Homo sapiens: one gene and its partners. The protein of the gene in region 3 interacts with the protein of the main gene of each other region in a biochemical or structural test. Each region holds a gene or a part of one and is shown on either strand. Other genes may lie near its edges.

Region 1 (7,000 bases), on a different chromosome or scaffold from region 3:
CAGTTTTCTTCCATTTTTGTCACGCCTTGATTGGCTTCTATTCCTTTATCCTCGGCACCCGTTGTTTTCCATATCTGTTTCCTAAGTTGTATCTCCTACCTGACTCAAAAGAAAGACCCTTCGTGTTTCTTCTTTCTTTGCCCCAGCCATCCTTTTCCTTACCATCATCCACGTGTGGAGAACACTATAGTAGCATTATGGAGACAGGTCTGTGGGAAAAAGGTAGCTTCCCAGGTAGATCCCAGTCTAATGGAGGAGAGATCATAGACAGAAAGGAAAATCCAGTGAGCATATTTTTTGTTTTTGTTCTTTTTTGAGACAGAGTCTGTCTCTGTCACCCAGGCTGGAGTGTGCAGTGGCGTGATCTCAGCTTACTGTAACCTCCGTCTCTTGGGTTCAAACAATTTTCCTGCCGCAGCCTCCCAAGTAGCTGGGACTACAGGCGCATGTCACCCGGCTAATTTTTGTGTATTTTTTTGTTTTTTTTGAGACAGTCTCACTCTGTCACCCAGGCTGGAGTGCAGTGGCGCGATCTTGGCTCACTGCAACCTCTGCCTCCCGGGTTCAAGCGACTCTCCTCCCTCAGCCTCCCAGGTAGCTGGGACTACTAGGCGCCTGCCAACACACCTAGCTAATTTTTTTTTTTTTTTTTTTTTTTTTTAGACAGAGTCTTGCTCTGTCCCCCAGGCTGGAGTGCAGTGGCACCATCTCGGCTCACTGCAAGCTCCGCCTCCCGAGTTCACGCCATTCTCCTGCCTCAGCCTTCCAAGTAGCTGGGACTACAGGCGCCCGCCACCACGCCCGGCTAATTTTTTGTATTTTTTAGTAGAGACGGGGTTTCACCGTGTTAGCCAGGATGGTCTCGGTTTCCTGACCTTGTGATCCACCCGCCTCGGCCTCCCAAAGTGCTGGGATTACAGGCATCAGCCACCATGCCTGGCCTTTTTTTTTGTATTTTTAGTAGAGACGGGGTTTCACTATGTTGGCCAGGCTGGTCTTGAACTCCTGACCTCGTGATCCGCCCGCCTCGGCCTCCCAAAGTGCTGGGATTATAGCCGTGAGCCACCACGCCCGGTGGAAATCTGGTAAGCCTATCTAACCATAAACAAGTATCAAGAACAGTATCCAAGTTCTATCTCTTTTCTCCACCTCCTCCCCCTCACTTGCTTCTGTTTCTCCCTAGGGCGATCAGGAATCTCCAGATGCTTGTCTGCCTCCTACAGTACCTGAAGCCCCAGCCCCACCCCAAAAGCCCCTTAACTCTCAGAGCCAGAAACATCTTGCACCTCCGCCCCTTCTTTCTCCCCTTTTACCTTCTATCAAGCCAACCGTTCGTAAGACCAGGCAAGATGGGAGTCAGGAAGCTCCAGAGGCTCCCTTGTCCTCAGAGCTGGAGCCTTTCCACCCAAAGCCTAAAATTAGAACTCGGAAGTCCTCCAGAATGACACCCTTTCCAGCTACCTCTGCTGCCCCTGAGCCCCACCCTTCCACCTCCACAGCCCAGCCAGTCACTCCCAAGCCCACATCTCAGGCCACTAGGAGCAGGACAAATAGGTCCTCTGTCAAGACCCCTGAACCAGTTGTCCCCACAGCCCCTGAGCTCCAGCCTTCCACCTCCACAGACCAGCCTGTCACCTCTGAGCCCACATCTCAGGTTACTAGGGGAAGAAAAAGTAGATCCTCTGTCAAGACCCCTGAAACAGTTGTGCCCACAGCCCTTGAGCTCCAGCCTTCCACCTCCACCGACCGACCTGTCACCTCTGAACCCACCTCTCAGGCTACTAGGGGAAGAAAAAATAGATCCTCTGTCAAGACCCCTGAACCAGTTGTCCCCACAGCCCCTGAGCTCCAGCCTTCCACCTCCACAGACCAGCCTGTCACTTCTGAGCCCACATATCAGGCTACTAGGGGAAGAAAAAATAGATCCTCTGTCAAGACCCCTGAACCAGTTGTGCCCACAGCCCCTGAGCTCCGGCCTTCCACCTCCACAGACCGACCTGTCACCCCCAAGCCCACATCTCGGACCACTAGGAGCAGGACAAATATGTCCTCTGTCAAGACCCCTGAAACAGTTGTCCCCACAGCCCCTGAGCTCCAGATTTCCACCTCCACAGACCAACCTGTCACCCCTAAGCCCACATCTCGGACCACTAGGAGCAGGACAAATATGTCCTCTGTGAAGAACCCTGAATCAACTGTCCCTATAGCCCCTGAGCTCCCACCTTCCACCTCCACAGAGCAGCCTGTCACCCCTGAGCCCACATCTCGGGCTACTAGGGGAAGAAAAAATAGATCCTCTGGCAAGACCCCTGAAACACTTGTCCCCACAGCCCCTAAGCTCGAGCCTTCCACTTCCACAGACCAACCTGTCACTCCTGAGCCCACATCTCAGGCCACCAGGGGCAGGACAAATAGGTCCTCTGTGAAGACCCCTGAAACAGTTGTCCCCACAGCCCCTGAGCTCCAGCCTTCCACCTCCACAGACCAGCCTGTTACCCCTGAGCCTACGTCTCAGGCTACTAGGGGAAGAACAGATAGATCCTCTGTCAAGACTCCTGAAACAGTTGTCCCCACAGCCCCTGAGCTACAGGCTTCCGCCTCCACAGACCAGCCTGTCACCTCTGAGCCCACATCTCGGACCACTAGGGGAAGAAAAAATCGGTCCTCTGTCAAGACCCCTGAAACAGTTGTGCCCGCAGCCCCTGAGCTCCAGCCTTCCACCTCCACAGACCAACCTGTCACCCCTGAGCCCACATCTCGGGCCACTAGGGGCAGGACAAATAGGTCCTCTGTCAAGACCCCTGAATCAATTGTCCCTATAGCCCCTGAGCTTCAGCCTTCCACCTCCAGAAACCAGCTTGTCACCCCTGAGCCCACATCTCGGGCCACTAGGTGCAGGACAAATAGGTCCTCTGTCAAGACCCCTGAGCCAGTTGTCCCCACAGCCCCTGAGCCCCATCCTACCACCTCCACAGACCAGCCTGTCACCCCCAAGCTCACATCTAGGGCCACTAGGAGAAAGACAAATAGGTCCTCTGTCAAGACTCCCAAACCAGTTGAACCAGCAGCCTCTGATCTTGAGCCTTTTACCCCCACAGACCAGTCCGTCACCCCTGAGGCCATAGCTCAGGGTGGTCAGAGCAAAACACTGAGGTCTTCCACAGTAAGAGCTATGCCGGTTCCTACCACCCCTGAATTCCAATCTCCTGTCACCACAGACCAGCCTATTTCCCCTGAGCCTATTACTCAACCCAGTTGCATCAAGAGGCAGAGAGCCGCTGGGAACCCTGGCTCCCTCGCAGCTCCCATTGACCATAAGCCTTGCTCTGCACCCTTGGAACCTAAATCCCAGGCCTCAAGGAACCAAAGATGGGGAGCAGTGAGAGCAGCTGAATCCCTTACAGCCATTCCTGAGCCTGCCTCTCCCCAGCTTCTTGAGACACCAATTCATGCCTCCCAGATCCAAAAGGTGGAACCAGCAGGTAGATCTAGGTTCACCCCGGAGCTCCAGCCTAAGGCCTCTCAAAGCCGCAAGAGGTCTTTAGCTACCATGGATTCACCACCACATCAAAAACAGCCCCAAAGAGGGGAAGTCTCCCAGAAGACAGTGATTATCAAGGAAGAGGAAGAAGATACTGCAGAGAAGCCAGGGAAGGAAGAGGTGAGGAGAGGGTTGGGACCACAAAGCTGGGAAAAATGACTTCAGGGCTCTGAAACTCCCACCAAGATTTTTCTCAATCTCAGGATGTCGTGACTCCAAAACCAGGCAAGAGAAAGAGAGACCAGGCAGAGGAGGAGCCCAACAGAATACCAAGCCGCAGCCTCCGACGGACCAAACTTAACCAAGAATCAACAGCCCCCAAAGTAAGAGACAAAGGCATGGGACTTTGTGGGAGACAGAGATGAGGGGAGGATGCAAGGAGACCTAGAGGATTGTAGAGATGGGTGCTGATGGCATGGGTTGCCGTAACCACCTCAGGTCAACCCTTCCACAGGTGCTCTTCACAGGAGTGGTGGATGCTCGGGGAGAGCGGGCTGTGCTGGCACTGGGGGGAAGTCTGGCTGGTTCAGCGGCAGAGGCTTCCCACCTGGTCACTGATCGCATCCGCCGGACAGTCAAGTTCCTGTGTGCCCTGGGGCGGGGAATCCCCATTCTGTCCCTGGACTGGCTGCATCAGGTGAGAGGCCAAGGGATGATGACAGACCGATATAGTGGCAAGACTGCTCATATAGTGCCCTAGAAAGTGGTGGAAGGGAAGAGGCGTTACAGGAAGACAGGGGCATTGGTGAGCCAGAAGCCTGCATTGATTTAAAAGACATTTTGTGAGCTCTCTCTAAATGCTAGGCAGCAGAGCTGATTGAGGGGCTGGGCTGAGCTTTGATGCTGACTGCTGCCGTCCTTAGTCCCGCAAGGCTGGTTTCTTCTTACCCCCGGATGAATATGTGGTGACCGACCCTGAGCAAGAGAAGAACTTTGGCTTTAGCCTTCAAGACGCACTGAGCAGGGCTCGGGAGCGAAGGCTGCTAGAGGTGAGAGGCTATCTTTTAACCTGTGCTTCAGCCCTCCCTCCAGTGCTTCCCAATCTACAATACCATCTCCATCATTTCTTTCTCTTAGGGCTATGAGATCTATGTGACCCCTGGAGTCCAGCCACCACCACCTCAGATGGGAGAGATTATTAGCTGCTGTGGAGGCACATACCTACCCAGCATGCCTCGGTCCTATAAGGTATGCTTAGGATGTTCTGGGTCTGGGTGAGGTGGCAGTGGCAGTTAAAGAGGTGGCTGGAATGGCAAAGATTGGAGGGAAAAAAATGGAGGTTCAGAAAGGAATATAAAGTAGTGAGAGGGTGGGGGAAAAGACCTATGGTATAGAAAGGGATAGGAATGAGGGGACAGATCTGCTGATACCCCCATATAACAATCACCGAGATTCAGCAGCAGCTTAATTTAGATTATGCTACATTTGCTCCATCTATCCCTTTTTTCCTTTGATTTTCTTTTTTTTTTTTTTTTTTTTTTTTTGAGATGGAGTCTCACTCTCAGGCTGGAGTGCAGTGGCACAATCTCGGCTCACTACAATCTCCGCCTCCTGGGTTCACACCATTCTCCTGCCTCAGCCTCCCGAGTAGCTGGGACTACAGGTGCCCGCCACCACGCCCGGCTAATTCTTTTGTATTTTTAGTAGAGATGGGGTTTCACTGTGTTAGCCAGGATGGTCTTGATCTCCTGAGGTCATGATCTGCCCGCCTCGGCCTCTCAAAGTGCTGGGATTACAGGCGTGAGCCACCGCGCCCGGCTTTTTCCTTTGATTTTCTTTGCTGAAGTATTTCATTTCTTTTTATTTTTCTTTATTCTTTCTTTTTTTCCTTTCTCTTTCTTTGCTGAAATATTTTAAAGCAAACTGCCAATATTATATTATTTCTTCCTACATACTTAAATATATATCTCTAAGAAATACGTACATTTTATTTCATAATCACAATGCCATTATTGATCCTAAGCAAAATTAACAGTAGTTTATTGGTCATTTGCTCACACTCCATTAATAAAATTTCTCCCATTGTCTGAAAAATGTCTCTATACAGTTGTTCAAATCAGGATTCAAATAAGGTCCACATACTGCCACACCTATTATCTTCTTAATTATCTTTACTCTAGAGCATCCCTTAACCCACCCAGCTTTTTTTATGCCATCTATTTCCTGCAGAAGCTGGGTCACTTGTCCTTTAGAATGTTCCTCAGTCTGGAATTTTGGGTTTGCCTCCTTGTCATATAATTTATCTTGTTCCTCTGTACTCCATATTTCCTGGAAATTGCAGATAATTGTAAAAGCTTGAATAAATTCAGGTTCATCTTTCTAGCAAAAGTATTTTTTTTTTTTGAGAGAGTCTCACTCTGTCGCCAGGCTGGAGTACAGTGGAGCAGTCTTGGCTCACTGCAACCTCCATCTCCCGGGTTCAAGCTGTTCTCCTGCCTCAACCTCCCGAGTAGCTGGGACTACAGGCGCACACCACCACGCCCAGCTAATTTTTTTATTTTTACTAAAGACGGGGTTTCACCATGTTGGCCAGGATGGTCTCGATCTCTTGACCTCGTGATCCACCCACCTCGGCCTCCCAAAGTGCTGGGATTATAGGCGTGAGCCACTGTGCCTGGCCTCTAGCAAGAGTATTTCTTTTTTTTTTTTCTTTTTTTTTTTCTTTTGAGATGGAGTCTTGCTCTGTAGCCCAGGCTGGAGTGCAGTGGCGCGATCTCGGCTCACTGCAAGCTCCGCCTCCTGGGTTTTCACGCCATTCTCCTGCCCCAGCCTCCCGAGTAGCTGGGACGACAGGCACCCGTCAGCGCGCCCGGCTAATTTTTTTTTTTTTTTTTTTTTGTATTTTTAGTAGAGACAGGGTTTCACCGTGGTCTTGATCTCCTGACCTCGTGATCCACCCGCCTCAGCCTCCCAAAGTGCTGTGTAATTACAGGCATGAGCCACTGCGCCCGGCCTAGCAAGAGTATTTCATAGACAGTATGCGGTGTGCTTCACTTGGCTTCATATTAGGAGGTATTATTTTAGTGATGGTAAGACTGGTTAGTGGGTCCTGAACCCATTTCTAGGATTCTTTTTCACCTGATTTTGCCTTTGCTCTGTCTTCCCCAGCCTCAGAGAGTTGTGATCACATGCCCTCAGGACTTCCCTCATTGCTCCATTCCACTACGGGTTGGGCTGCCCCTCCTCTCGCCTGAGTTCCTGCTGACTGGAGTGCTGAAGCAGGAAGCCAAGCCAGAGGCCTTTGTCCTCTCCCCTTTGGAGATGTCATCCACCTGAGAACTCCACTACCCTTTTCCCTCCCAGACCACGAATTAGAAGATATGTGGAAGAAAGAACTCAGGGCGTTAGAAAGGATTGGGGTATATTGATACAACTTGTCCTGGAACATGGGTGGGACCAGAAATCTTTATGAATAAATGAAAAGATAAGGGATTTGGAAGCCACAGGTTGTTTTTTGTT
Region 2 (7,000 bases), on a different chromosome or scaffold from region 3:
TGTGGCCACCTTGTACCCTCCCCACCTTCCCTCCCACTAAATGACCTTTCTGCATTAGTGTGGCACTAGGGCTCAAAATCCTGTGTGCAGTTTGGAGCCTGCACTTGGCTTGCTTTTTGACTTCTAGCAAGTCATTGTTCTTCCCTAAGCCTCAGTTTTCGTTATCTGCAAAATGGGGCTGTGCTACCGTCACTGAGTTAACCTGAAGACCTTACGGAGACACCTCACCTGTCAGTGCCTGCCCCAGACTCACCTGAATTGGCAAGGGCCAAGGCCTTTAGTAGAACATACTCCTCTCGCTCCAGCCGCAGGGCCTGCAGCCGCCGCACTAGTTGCAGCAGGGCAGCCCCCAGTTCCCCCAGGCCAGCTGCCCGTGCCCCCTCTTCATCCAGGACTAAGTCCTCAGCGAAGGCCAGCTCATCCTGCAGTGGCAGTGAGCGCTGGGCCACACCCAGCACCAGCACCTCCATCCACACGCTCTGCAGTACTGACATCTGGTCAGACAGCGACAGCGATGAGAAGCCTAGGGGGCAGCGGGGAGCGGGCCTGGCTGAGCAAGCGCACCAGAGCCGGGCCCGTTCAGGGCAGCCCCGGGTCACCTGGGCCCTTTACCTGGGATGCTCTTGGCCCAGCTGATGGTGACCACAATCTCTCGGTCAAAGAGGTCACAGAGGGTAGCCACGGCTGGGAGGTGCCCATCAGGGCCTGCGGGGTCAGGCATGGCATAGAGCTTCTCAGGCTCAACCACCAGCAGATGAGACACCAGTGCATTCACTGGGGCTGCTGTGACAATTAGAGGACAAGAGTCAGGAGCACTCGAATCTGTCAGGCCTCAGGGGTCAAGCATCTTCCCACAGTGGCTCCCCCTGTGGCCTTCCTCAGTAGCAGCTGTCCAGTGACTTCCCTCCAGGGAAGAGCGCTAACTGTCTCCCAGGGAAAGCCCGTGTGTTTGTGGACAGGCTGTGAGTGTTGGAAAATCGTCCCTGTTCCCAGTTCTACTACTTTTCCTGATGCAGGAAAAGGCAGTTTCACATGTCTTGGGGAAATGAGTGAGTGAAGAGACGAAGGGGAAATACAGGTCCCAGTGCCCAAGGTAACTATGATGCCACACATAGGCCTCCGGTTTCGTAGCCCCAGGTACCCACAGTGCTCTCACCTGTCTTCCGGGGGCCTCCAGCGACTGCCAGGGGCCCAGCAGGGAAGGGGCCCGGGAAGGGCAGTGGGTCCACCTCCGGCCGCCGCTTGTACTTCTGCCGCCCACCCCGGACGCGGTCCAGGCGCACTCCTTGAATTGTGGGACAGATAGGACTGTGACTGTGGTGCTGTGGGCAGGGTGGGGCTTGCTCTCCAGAGCTGTCCTCCCCGAGTCCACTCACCAGAACTCCCAGGCCTCACCCCCACCTGGCCCGGGTCCCCGACTCCCCCAGCCCTCGCCCAGCCCCTGCCCAGCGCTCACCCTCCTTGAGCATGCCCACCCGCAGGCACTTGGTGAAGCGGCAGGCCTGGCAGGCCTTGCGTCTCCGCTTGGTGATCTCACACTCGTTGGAGGCCGGACAGCTGTACTCGATGCTCCCTGCCAGGAAGAGGCAGGGCTCCAGTGGCGGCCTCCCGGGGCTGGGAGGGGACCCAGCTGACAGGAGAGCCCTGACTCTCCCCGGGCAAGCACAGGTCTGGGGGTATGGGGAGGAAAGGGAGAGCAGGGGGCCATGAGCAGGCAGGGAGGGGAGTGGCTGCTGGGCGGGGGAGCCCTGCCTGGATGAGGGAGGAGCTGGACCAGGCAGCGGGGCTGCATCTCAGCCCCAAGCCTCATCTCTGGACCACACTGCCCTCATCTGCCGACATCAAGGGCCACAAGGACCTCTGCATTGCTAAATCCAGTGGTCAATTCTTAGTCCTCATGTTACTTGGCCTAAAAGGAGGATCTAAGGCTGTTGATCACTTCCTGCTCCTAGAAACACTGAAACACTTTCTTCTTTTGCTTCTAGGACAGCATACACTCTGGTTTTCCTCCCACCGCACCAGCCACTTTGTGGTTTCTGAGCATCTTCCCAAGCTCTTCCATCCAGACTGCCAGGGCTGTCCTTGGAGCTCATCTCCAATCCCATGGCAATCTTCCCCAGCCGTGGGGCTCTCACGTTTCTACCTCTAGCCTGGACTTGCTGTGAGCTCCAGACCCATCTCTCCAGCTGCCTCCTTGACATCCTGCATGTCTAGAAGGCATCTCGGACCGAACACAGCCTACGTGGACTCCACGTGTTCACTTGCCCAAGAAGAAACCTAGGCAGAATCTCTGGTTCCTCTCACACCCCACATCCAAGCCACCGACACATTCTGGTGGGCTTTACCTCCTCCAAGGTCCAGAATCCGCCTCCTGCCCCTGGCAACTACTTCCACCCTTGACCTGATAGTCACTGTCACCTCGCCCCTCGCTTGGCTGTCCCTGCTTGCTCCAGTCTGTTCTCGACTCAGCAGCCAAGAGGGTCCTATTAAGCCTCCATTACATCCTGTACCTCCTCTTCTCAAAACCCTCTGGGGATTTCCCTTCTCTGAGTCCAAGCCAAAGCGAACCTATGTCCTCCTAGGCCTACGCCCCTGCTTCTTGCCTCCTTTTGACCTCTACTCCTTGCTCTCGCCTCCTCCATGTTCCTCAAACAGGCCCTGCCTGGAGCTCTAGTCCTGAAGTCCACACAGGCTCCCTCACCTCCCTCTGCTCACTGTCACCTTGAAGATCTTCCCTGGCCACCCTGTGATAATGCCAAATCCCTTTGCAGAGTCCTCCTGGCCTCTGAGCCCTGCTTCTGGTTTCTCTTCAGCCCTCAGCACAACAGACCACGCTGCATATGCACTCACCTATCTTGTTTATTACGCCTCCCCCTTCAGTGGCAGCTCCACCGGGGCAGGAACTGGCCCCAGCACTAGCAACGAGGCCTGGCACATGGTGGGTGCTGGCAGCCCTCCCGGCCTCACAGGGCCCCGCAACGACCAAATGACACAGCTAGACAGCAGGCCCGCAGCACATTTCTCCTCGCGGTGCATTTTCTCCTACCCCCTATTTGCGCTTCTGCACTCAGCTCAAGACACCACGGCCGGGCACGGTGGCTCACGCCTGTAATCCCAGCACTTTGGGAGACCGAGGTGGGTGGATCACCTGAGGTCAGAAGTTCAAGACCAGCCTGGCCAACATGGTAAAACCCCGTCTCTACTAAAAGTACAAAAATTAGCTGGGTGTGGTGGCAGGCACCTGTAGTCCCAGCTACTCAGGAGGCTGAGGCAGGAGAATCGCTTGAACCCGGGAGGCAGAGGTTGCAGTGAGCCGAGATTGTGCCACTGCACTCCAGCCTGGGTGACACAGTGAGACTCCATCTCGAAAAAAAAAAATTAGCCGGACATGGTGGTGCATGTCTGTAATCCCAGCTGCTCCGGAGGCTGAGGCAGGAGAATCGCTTGAACCCGGGAGGCAGAGGCTGCAGTGAGCCAAGATCGTGCCATTGCACTCCAGCCTGGGCAACCAGAGCGAAACTCTGTACCAAAAAAAAAAAAAGGCCAGGCGCAGTGGCTCACGCCTATAATCCCAGCACTTTGGGAGGCCGAGGCAGGCAGATCACGAGGTGAGGAGTTTGAGACCAGCCTGACCAACACGGTGAAACCCTGTCTCTACTAAAAATACAAAAATTAGCTGGGCGTGTGCCTGTAGTCCCAGCTACTCGGGAGGCTGAGGGAGAACAATCGCTTGAACCTGGGAGGCGGAGGTTGCAGTAAGCTGAGATCGTGCCACTGTACTATAGCCTGGCAACAGAGTGAGACTCTGTCTAAAAAAAAAAAGAGGCCGGGAGCGTAATCCCAGCACTTTGGGAGGCCGAGGCGGGTGGATCACGAGGTCAGGAGATCGAGACCATCCTGGCTAACATGGTGAAACCCAGTCTCTACTAAAAATACCAAAATTAGCCGTGCGTGGTGCCATGCGCCTGTAATCCCAGCTATTGGGGAGGCTGAGGCAGGAGAATCGCTTGAACCCGGGAGGCGGAGCTTGCACTGAGCCGAGATCGCGCCACTGGACTCTAGCCTGGGCAACAAAGCGAGACTCCGTCTCAAAAAAAAAAAAAAAAAGACAAGCCCTCTGGAGCCTCAGAACCAGCACCTCCCCTTCCTGCACATACCACAGCGGTAATAAGACAAGTCTGTGCAACTCACTGTTGCCCAGCTCTCCCCTCTGCCAGGATGTAAACTGCCTGAGGGCAGAAACAGCCCTGCTTCAGCCCCAGCTATGTCCCCAAGGCCTGGAACACTGGCCAGGACAGCAAAGAACAGGTCTGTGCCGAACAGGGACTCTGGCTACCACATACCTTTATGACCTTGGGCAAGTCCCATACCTAACCCCTTGAACCCTCAGTTTCCCAGCTGTAAAAGTGCCCCACAGAGTTGGGTCGTGAGAATTAAAGGGGATAATATGGTCAAAACATCCAGCATGGTTCATGACACCTAAGTGCTCAATATACAAGTCCTATTCACAGCCAGCACACAATAAATATTTGTCAATAGTCAACATACAGTGAGGGGCCCCAGGGTAGGTAGGAGATACCCGCACCCTGGCCGGCTGGCTCACTGTTCTTCAGAGTGGGAAGGGTGCACAAAGTTTAAGATTGGTGGATTTTGGCCAAGTTAAAACTTGCTGGATTGGCGGGGTGCAGTGGCTCACACCTATAATCCCAGCACTTTGGAAGCCCGAGGAGGGCAGATCGCCTGAGGTCAGGAGTTTGAGGCCAGCCTGGCCAACATGGTGAAACCCCATCCCTACTAAAAACACAAAAATTAGCCGGGCATGGTGGCAGGCGCCTGTAATCCCAGCTACTTGGGAGGCTGAGGCAGGTGAATGGCTTGAACCCGGGAGGCAGAGGTTGCAGTGAACCACGACTGCAGGCCGTTGCACTCCAGCCTGGACAACAAGAGCAAAACTCCATCTCAAAAAAAAAAAAAAAAAAAAAAAAAACCTGGCCAGGAGCAGTGGCTCACGCCTGTAATCCCAGCACTTTGGGAGTCCAAGGCAGGTGGATCTCGAGGTCAGGAAATCAAGACCATCTTGGCTAACACGCTGAAACCCCGTCTCTACTAAAAGTACAAAAAATTAGCCAGGCGTGGTGGCGGGCACCTGTAGTCCCAGCTACTCAGGAGGCTGAGGCAGGAGAATGGTGTGAACCCGGGAGGCGGAGCTTGCAGTGAGCCGAGATCGTGCCACTGCACTCCAGCCTGGGCGACCACACGAGACTGTCTCAAAAAAAAAAAAAAAAACGTGCTGGAATGTCACAATCAGTCATTCAGCGTCTGTCCAAAGTTCGGTGTTATTAGTAATAAGCAGAGGAAGCAGTCTAACATTGAAGAGCTCAGCTCTGGACCTATACTGACCCAAGTTCAAATCTTGGTTCTGCCATTTCCTAGTTGTGAGACTTCAACAAAGTTTCAAATGCCTCTCTTAGTTTCAGTTATAACAGTACTGACACCTTATAGGGTTGCTGTGGGGACTAACTGAGATCATAAAAGAATACAGTGCCTAGCACAAGGTAAGCACTCAAGATTTTTTTTTTTTTTTTTTTTTTGATACGAACTCTCACTCTGTCACCCAGGCTGGGAGTGCAGTGGCACGATCTTGGCTAACTCCAACCTCTGCCTCCTGGGTTCCAGCAATTCTCCTGCCTCAGCCTCCTGAGTAGCTGGGACTACAGGCACCCACCACGACACCTGGCTAATTTTTGTATTTCTAGTACAGACAGGGTTTCACCATGTTGGCCAGGCTGGTCTCGAACTCCTGACCTTGTGATCCTCCCATCTTAGCCTCCGAAAGTGCTGAGATTACAGGTGTGAGCCACCACACTTGGCCTTTTTTTTTTTTTTTTTAATTATACGTGTTATAGCCCCCAAAGTAACCAATGGTTACATAAAAGCAGAAATAACGGAAATAATAGGCCCTTCCCAGGCAATGCTTAATGTCAGCATCTTGCTCATTCCCCCAAATTCTGATAAGCTTTCCTGAGTGAGAAAAAAATTAGTGACTTTTAAGAGCAGACATGCCTGTAAGTCCTTTTTTTTTTTTTTTTGAGATGAGAGTGTCTCATTCTGTTGCCCAGACTAGAGTGCTGTGGCATGATCTCAGCTCACTGCAACCTCTGCCTCCCGGGTTCAAGCAATTCTCCTGCCTCAGCCTCCCAAGTAGTGGGATTACAGGCACTCACCACCACGCCCGGCTAATTTTTGTATTTTTAGTAGAGACGGGGTTTTACCATGTTGGCCAGGCTGGTCTCGAACTCCTGACCTCGTGATCCGTCTGCCTCAGCCTCCCAAAGTGCTGGGATTACAGGCCATGAGCCACCAAGCCCAGCGTTTTTGGGTTTTTTTGTTTTTGTTTTTGTTTTTGTTTTTTGAGGTGGAGTTTCACTTTTGTTGCGCAGGCTAGAGTGCAATGGCGCGATCTGGGCTCATTGCAACCTCTGCCTCCCAGGTTCAAGCAATTCTCCTGTCTCAGCCTCTTGAGTGGGATGACAGGCGCATGCCACCATGCTTGGCTAATTTTTGTATTTTCAGTAGAGACGGGGTTTCATCACATTGGTCAGGCTGGTCTCAAACTCCTGACCTCAGGTGATCCGCCCGTCTCGGCCTCCCAAAGTGCTGGGATTACAGGCATGAGCCACCGCGCCCAGCCTTTTTTTTTTTTTTTTTGAGACGGAGTCTCACTCTGTCGCCCAGGCTGGAGTGCAGTGGCGTGATCTTGGCTCACTGCAACCTCCGCCTCCTGGGTTCACGCCATTCTCCTGCCTCAGCCTCCCAAGTAGCTGGGATTACAGGCGCCCGCCACCATGCCCAGCTAATTTTTTGTATTTTTAGTAGAGACAGTGTTTCACCGTGTTAGCCAGGATGTTCTCAATCTCCTGACCTCATGATCCGCCCGCCTCGGCCTCCCAAAGTGCTGGGATTACATGAGCCACAGTGCCCGGCCTTTTTTTTTTTTTTT
Region 3 (7,526 bases):
TGTCCTTCAATATTCTGGCAACAAACTATTGGAAATTGAAATGAAAATACCATTTACATAGGATCAAAATAATGAAATACAGTACTTAGGGATAAATTCAATAATATTTGTGTAAGATGTGTTTACTGGAGAGTACAGATTATAATTTGGAATTAAAGAAGACTCAAGTAAATAGAAAGATAAATTCATGGCTTAAAAGATTAAATATTGTTATGATGTTACTCCTGCACAAATCAATCTATAGATTCAGTGCCATCTACAGGTTACAGTGCAAGAAGGCTGTTTTTTTATTAGTAACATATACTTGTATATAAATTGACCTAATTCTTTTTAATGGCTACATATGTTCCCTAATATGAATGAGGTACAGTTTAATCAGTCCATAAAAAGCAGTCTGGTTAAGTAGTGTTAATATTTTCCATTAGTAAACCTATGTGATGATACACATATACATACACACACACACACACACACCCCAGCCCTACTCTATCCTAGATAAGTCACGGGATCTAAATAGTAGTACTGGACTATAGAACATTTTTATACATAATAATCCATGTGATTGTGCTAAATTTGCCATGTACTGGTCTTTTCATGGTACCATGACACCTTTGGGCTTTCCCTATGGTAGAGATATCTGGGCCAATCATACATACAAGCTCCATTCTTCTCAGCTTTCCCAGCTGGGACTGCTTGGCTGGCCAACCTGGCTCCCCAGTGCTCTGGCTGAAACTAACTTCCTCATCACTGGCTTTATGCCATCACTGGCCTTATGGCATCACTGGCTTTATGGTATCACCGGTTTTATATTTTATGAGCGCTATACTTGAAGTCCTACCCTTATCACTTCTAATATTTGTGCTGGGCTTCTGCCTTCTGAACTCCATTCCCTGCATTGGTAATATAATGTTCTCCCATGGATACACCTGTTTCCTATAGCTGGGCTACCTGATACCTCTTGCAAAGGATGGAAAGTTGCTATTAAGGTTAAATTGGGTTCCCAGAGAAAGGCTAGATTACGCTTCCAATTCTTTCATCTTAAAAAAATAGAAGTTTCCCAATATGAATATTGAGACACTTACTCAAACACTCATTTATTCAACTAGGTGGTGGCTACTTAACACTCAGCTAAGCACTAGGGTTGGGGGCGTGGTGCAGACAACCAAAACAATGATGACCAAATGAATGGCACAGACTGTAAGTGTTATAGGTATATATTTGAATCTCTTAACAGGTCTGCGTTTCTCAAGTCTCTCCTCTTTGCAATCTATCTCTACCAACTGAGCTTTTTAAAAGTTAAAGCTCATTTGTTTTCACAGAAAAAAGTGTAAGCTCTTTAATGTAGCATTCAGGGCTCTTCATAATCTGGCCTTAACTTCCATTCAAGCCTTAATCCTTCCTACTGTCTCTCATATACCCTGTAATCTACACATAGCAAATTTTTCACTGGTCCCATGAGGCACCAGTCCCTTTCTGATCTTTGTTCCCTCTGCCTAGAATGCCTTTTTCTTCTTCTTCACCTAGCGAACTCCTAATCAGCCTCTAAGAGTCAGTTCAAAGTCTTGTTGAAACATATCCCCTATGGTCCTCATCTGTCCTGGATGTGAGCACATTGTTCTGTCACCTTTATTAGATCGTGAGATTTTGGAGGGCACTGGGATTATCTCATTAGTCTTTGTATCTCTGAATCCAGGTCTCAATAAGGCCTGGCAAATAGTAGGGGCCCAACACATAATTGTTAAATGAAACAAGGAATAAATGAACGTGAAGGAAGAGCTCAAAGGGGATTGATGTATTTAGGTAAGGGTTTTTGAAGGGCACAGGACTTGAAGCTGGACCTAGGAAGATAATAGAGAAGTAGGGAACGGGCATTTGGAGGAGGAGGATTATTACCCTAGGAGATGAAAGAACTAAAGCCCAAGACTGAGAGCGAAGAGAGTGAGGTCAGCCCGGCTGCAACTGACCACTGCATTATCTTGACCTTTTCACCTACTAGATTTCTTGATTATATTTTCAGCTCATGGAGGGCAGGGTATTTTATGTACTCCTTTGTATCCCCTTTATATTTGATGCACATCTCCACAGTCACTCTTCCTACTGTCTTATTCTTTTTCTGCTCTGTATTATAACTATCTGTGCATTTGCATGTCTCCCCAGCACTTACACCACCCTCCCTCCCTAGCTGCTTGAGGTAGGGGATGAATTTCTCTCTTTGCATCTCCTAAGACATTTAGCATGGTGTCTGGCACATAATGGGTGCTCAGCAAATATTTTTTGATCTACCATTTGTTAATCTGATTTCAGAGGACCACAAGGATATTTGTGTGCAACTGTGTATTGTGCCACAGAACTTATATGACTTCACACTGTGTAGCCTAGTTTTGGCAATTTTCATTAAAATGTTATCTTATTGTACCTGTAAGACTGTCATTTCAATTTTATTCTTTGTTCTTTCTTGCATGACTCACATCTCTTAAACCAGAAGGATATGACAGAAGGAATTCACAAAAGGTTTGGACAAATTTATGAATGACATAGTCATAAATGTCTGGGTATAAGAAGTGAGCAGCATGCAAAGAAGAAGGAGATAACTTGCATTTTTTTTTCTTTTTTTTGAGACGGAGTGTCACACTGTCACCTAGGCTGGAGTGCAATGGCATGATCTTGGCTCTCTGCAACCTCCACCTTCCGGGTTCAAGCAATTCGCTTGCCTCAGCCTCCCGAGTAGCTGGGATTACAGGCGTGCACCACCACGCCCAGCTAATTTTTTGTATCTTTAGTAGAGATGGGCTTTCACCATGTTGGCCAGGCTGGTCTCAAACTCCTGACCTCAAGTGATCTGCCTGCCTTGACCTCCCAAAGTGCTGGGATTACAGCTGTAAGCCACCATGCCCGGCCGAGAACTTGCATTTTTAAAGTGCCTATTAGATTCCAGGGAACTACGTGTTAGGCACTTGACATACATTATATCTCATTTAATCTTACAGAATATTTCAGTATAAAGACAGAACACCTATTTATGAGGCCCAGCTTACACCCATTCAGGCCCACAGCTTCTCCATGTACCAGAGGCGATATTCATCTTTATTAAAATTTTATCAATCTTTTAACACAGATGAAACTTTGGATTTGCTTTTGCTTCTCAGGAATAGAGCATTCATTCTCAGTTCAGGCTTCTACAGCTTAAAACTTGTTTCTGACATAACTTGATCAGTTTATAAAGTCCCAGAGCTTTAAATTACAATGCAATCTGAGATATTCCCACAGCAATAACAGCGATTACATTTGTTCACAGCACTTACCTTTATATTTCATTAAGCTTCCAAATACTGAATAAAGGTAAGACAAACCAAGAAAAGAGACTTCTATTAACCCTGACATCAGCAAATTGTCTCAAATTATAGTGTACCTTCTATTTGTATTCTAGACATATTGAATGGTTTTTGTGAGATACATATTGTACCTCACCTGAGGTTAGGAGAAAATTGGAAGGAAATTAGTTTAAGTTGTTTCTAATTTTTAAAAAATAATAGCAACTTTAAAAAGCATCATGCTCCCAAGTGTACAGCTACTGTATCTGGCAGAAATCATAACATTAAAACCAAAGCAGCATCCCTAATCCTTGGGAAATAGCTTGAGAAGGTGGGGCTGCATGTACTGGTTTGTTATTTTAAGTCATCTAGTCTAAGGTCCGTAGTTATACATCTTGATCTATAACATGGTTCCTACTTGCAGGGGAACTGGGGTGATAGGTAGGAACAAAGGTATGCCTTTGGATTAGGGATTATCAGCACACTCACAGGTCCCAGACAGCTTTCCATGAACTTGTTTTGGGAAAACTAGAACAGACATCTTTGCTTTGGAAAACATAAAGCCCATCTTGTATGACTAAAGAAAATGGCAAGGGCTCAAATGACGTTTCACATTTTGGATGGTCCTATTCCAGCCTCTGTGTGCCACTAATTGCTAGAAAAACATCAGCAATGGTCTTTGTAGTGCTTGTGGGTTTCTTGAATTTTACATTAGTCAAAGAAAATTGAGAGATCAGGACTACCACCAAAGAACATGTGCCACGTACCACCTATGAAACTTCTTAAAAAAAAGATGAGAATCCAGCTTACACATTTTAAAAATAGCCCCTTCCTTTTTGAGGCTAGGGGATAAAAATATGCACATATTCCAAAGAATTCTTTGTGTGAACAGGTGACCCCTTCCCACAGTCTCTGTAATTAATTGAGAAATTAAAGTTGGTTGGCCTTTGAGATCTCTTGTAAAAAAACAAAAAGGCAGAAGGTCTTGGATATTTTGGAACAAGAGTCCACTATTCTGCCAAGACAGTGTGTTATTGTTATTGAAGTGTCTCTCAACAAAACGGTATTGAGTGGTGAGGACGTGATTTTGATTAGGTGGAATGACTCAGCTCTTCCCCTTAAAGAAGAGAGGACTTGTCAGAGCCTTACTTACCTCATGATCTGGGATCTCAGAGGATAGTGTTTTCCCTAGGATGACCCCGGTCAAGTATGTCCAGCATCGAGCCGTGTTGGCAAGGTTATAGCCTCCTGTCTCCATCAAGAATTGTGAAGTTAGGAAAGAATAGTCATAAAACAGCAGGAGAGGGAAGGGGGGTAAGGAAAGAGAGAAAAATGTTTTAAGAAAAGACAACCTCAAATTGCAGAATTTCCCCTAATCCCCCCTTTGTGATATTTTTAAACCACCTAGTAGGCAGACTTTGGTGGACCAGTCAAATCATGCACAGTGTAAAACTGGGCAGTCCAAGGTCTGCAAAGATTAAATAGGCTCCCATCTCCCCAAAAATATGTACCTGAGGAATCCAAACTCCTCAGTTCCATCAAGAGCCATCAGCAAGACTCAGATCTCTGGAATCCAGATCTCTTGAGGTGATCTACCCAATGGAAAGATTTCTGTGATGAATTTTGCAACAATTCTATAAAATGACTGCTGAATGTGATTTGTATTTTTAAAACTATTGGCAGATCTAGCCCTAAAAACCCAGGAAAGAGAAAAGGAAAATGCTGACAAAAACAGACTTCCTTCTTTTGATGTCAGCATTCCTTTTTGCCACAAAACATAGGCCTGGTGGCAGAGATCAAAGAGAGTGAGATGAGGAAGGGACCGTTGATGGATGCTCTGACCCATCTCGTCAGGTCCTGTCACAGTCACCCAACGGCCATATTATACTGGCTAATAATCAGCACATTTTTGTGCTGAATAGATGTGCTCTGCCATGCAAGCATTAGAACATTGGCCTTTAGCTAAATTCTAAGAGTATAAGGGTAAAATGGAATGATTTCCTAATCTCAACGCAGCCTAAGGGAAACAGAATCTGGTCTATTTTAGATAGGGTGACCATATAAATTATCATACAAAATGGTATACTTTTAAAAGTAAAAGAGGGCACTATTAATCATTACACTGGGATAACATGTATAAACTCGGACATATGGTCACTCTTTTCTTAAGCTTTTCTACTATTTGAAAGGTCACGGATGCTTTGACTATGTCTTTTAGGTCTCAATGGGGTCCACTGAAGCTTGGGGATGTGGCTCCCTCTACGAATTGTGTGTTAATAGGGCTGAGAATTTCAGTTAGATAGTACAGGTATTACTTTAAATACTCCTGACACGGAAAAATCTGACTTTATAAGATAGACTTATTCGGCATGAGTATTTAATTTCAAAAAAAGGTCACTATAGGTTTTGCTTAGGTAGTAAACTATCTCTGGTACATATACAATATGATTTGATTTGCAAAAATTCCATTTATGCACAAGCGTTTTCAGGAATACACATATTTCCTAAGAAGACTTATATATTCAAATGTCAAAACTTTGGGCTGAGAAAACAAAAAGGCTTTAGAGAATGCTAACAGGCTTTTAATGTAAAGATTATAGCCTCAAACAAAAGTCAGGTTCTAACCTGATGTATATGGTAGAAAGGTCTCTTCCCCCTCCTTAGCTGTACCTGTATCATAATCACCATCCTTAGTGCTGTCAAGAAAAGTAATATGTCACACAGTACTTATCAATTTTATCTTTTTCTTCAGTTGAAGTTAATATATTTCTTGCCAGCTTTTCATAAGAGGTTGTCTCTTGTAAGTACCTTTAATTTTGAGCCTTCTAGAGTTTGAGGCTGCCAAAGGACAAGGCTTGTGTACTTGTGTTGAATGCCCACTCATTTAATAAGGCCTCCCCACAATTTCCTCTAACAGGTTGACAAAACAACCAACAATTAGCTCTTCTATAATATATGCATTTTAAGCTCAATCTGCTTGACCATGTTATTTTAACACACCAATCTATTCATCCAATGAAATAAAGATTGTGCCAGGTAGGTAGACAGAAGATTTTAAGCAAGGCATCTTTAAAGGTGGTAGATGTTGTGACAAGTTCTTTTCTCAAATGTTTAAATGCTACTATTGAATAGACCGGGCTTTCTTTTGGCTAAGTAATACAAATAATCAGCACACACCAAAGGCAAGAATGCCCAAGAGACTATAGATCTCTCAATTTTGCTTCACTGTAACAAATCCATGCTTTTTGGGGGAAGAGGCATTCTTGAATTCAGCTTATTTAATTAATCTGTGTGTTTACTACTTACATACAAGTAGAGTTGGAATTTCAGTGACATGTTCCCAAAAGATGATTATTAGAACTGAAAATCAAAGACTACACTGAGAGAAGGTGGATCAAAGTCTACCGGGGTTAACATCCTCTATTTTTAAGATTCGAGGTAACCTTTAACCAGAGGATCTTTGCTTCAGGAATTGAAATTTAGACTTTAGAGTGCCAAGAAGTCAATGCACATGCTAAGCTGAGAAGTGTGTCAGAGTATTTTCTTATTCTGAACTGTGGAGGTGGCAGATTTTATTGACTCAGGCTTCTGGGCCTCAGGTAGGTTGGTATTATCCAATGCAAGAAAGCCAAGTTTTCCAAGTTCAGTGCCAATGGACAAAATGTGGAGGAAGGTCAACAAATTCTGGTAACCTTCCTTTATACTCACCTCCTCCCAAAATGAGTGTTGCCAACTGCCATTGAAGGATGTACTTAAGACACTTGCCAATTCCCACTGGAGTCATGTTAAAGGAGCACATGGGATCCCCAGCTATTGTGTCAGCTCCCAGCTGTAAGACCACTGCTTTGGGATTAAAGGCTTGGTATACTTCCTTTAGTACACTATATAAAATAGAAAGGATACAAAATATAGGTCAGTTTGGTCTAGGGGTAGTGGTGGTGGTAGGGCAAGTTGGAGGTATAATTGAATTAGCAAATAGTTAAGGGAAAAAAACACAACCTGTCAAACTCATCAAACTTTCCACTTAAGAGAGGTGAATCAGACTACATGTAAATGATACCTTAATAAACCTGACTTACAAAAAAATTTCCCTCTACTTCCACGCTCATCAATGAACACATCTGCCCTTCTGTTTTAAAATTCAGACTTCCTTGAAATATTCATATTAATTTAACTTCAACAGCCATAGGACACAGTATACACATTTAGTCCATT

Evidence for each region.
Region 1: the proteins of HDAC8 (region 3) and MDC1 interact in a test that uses a peptide from one of them, tested with the Homo sapiens proteins (one study listed by BioGRID).
Region 2: the proteins of HDAC8 (region 3) and ESRRA form a complex in vitro, tested with the Homo sapiens proteins (one study listed by BioGRID).

What each region holds. Positions count from the first base shown.
Region 1 is NC_000006.12:30,700,282-30,707,281, reverse strand, and holds part of MDC1 (mediator of DNA damage checkpoint protein 1), read left to right. Parts: intron 1-1,183; coding exon 1,184-3,661; intron 3,662-3,744; coding exon 3,745-3,864; intron 3,865-3,995; coding exon 3,996-4,178; exon of another isoform or gene 4,179-4,215; intron 4,216-4,404; coding exon 4,405-4,530; intron 4,531-4,618; coding exon 4,619-4,729; intron 4,730-6,649; coding exon 6,650-6,817; 3' UTR 6,818-7,000. UniProt on the Homo sapiens protein: Histone reader protein required for checkpoint-mediated cell cycle arrest in response to DNA damage within both the S phase and G2/M phases of the cell cycle.
Region 2 is NC_000011.10:64,308,524-64,315,523, reverse strand, and holds part of ESRRA (steroid hormone receptor ERR1), read right to left. Parts: intron 1,671-7,000; coding exon of another isoform or gene 1,574-1,670; coding exon 1,457-1,573; intron 1,286-1,456; coding exon 1,157-1,285; intron 784-1,156; coding exon 613-783; intron 524-612; coding exon 254-523; intron 1-253. UniProt on the Homo sapiens protein: Binds to an ERR-alpha response element (ERRE) containing a single consensus half-site, 5'-TNAAGGTCA-3'. Can bind to the medium-chain acyl coenzyme A dehydrogenase (MCAD) response element NRRE-1 and may act as an important regulator of MCAD promoter.
Region 3 is NC_000023.11:72,457,540-72,465,065, forward strand, and holds part of HDAC8 (histone deacetylase 8), read right to left. Parts: intron 7,193-7,526; coding exon 7,020-7,192; intron 4,564-7,019; coding exon of another isoform or gene 4,560-4,563; coding exon 4,465-4,559; exon of another isoform or gene 1-4,464. UniProt on the Homo sapiens protein: Histone deacetylase that catalyzes the deacetylation of lysine residues on the N-terminal part of the core histones (H2A, H2B, H3 and H4).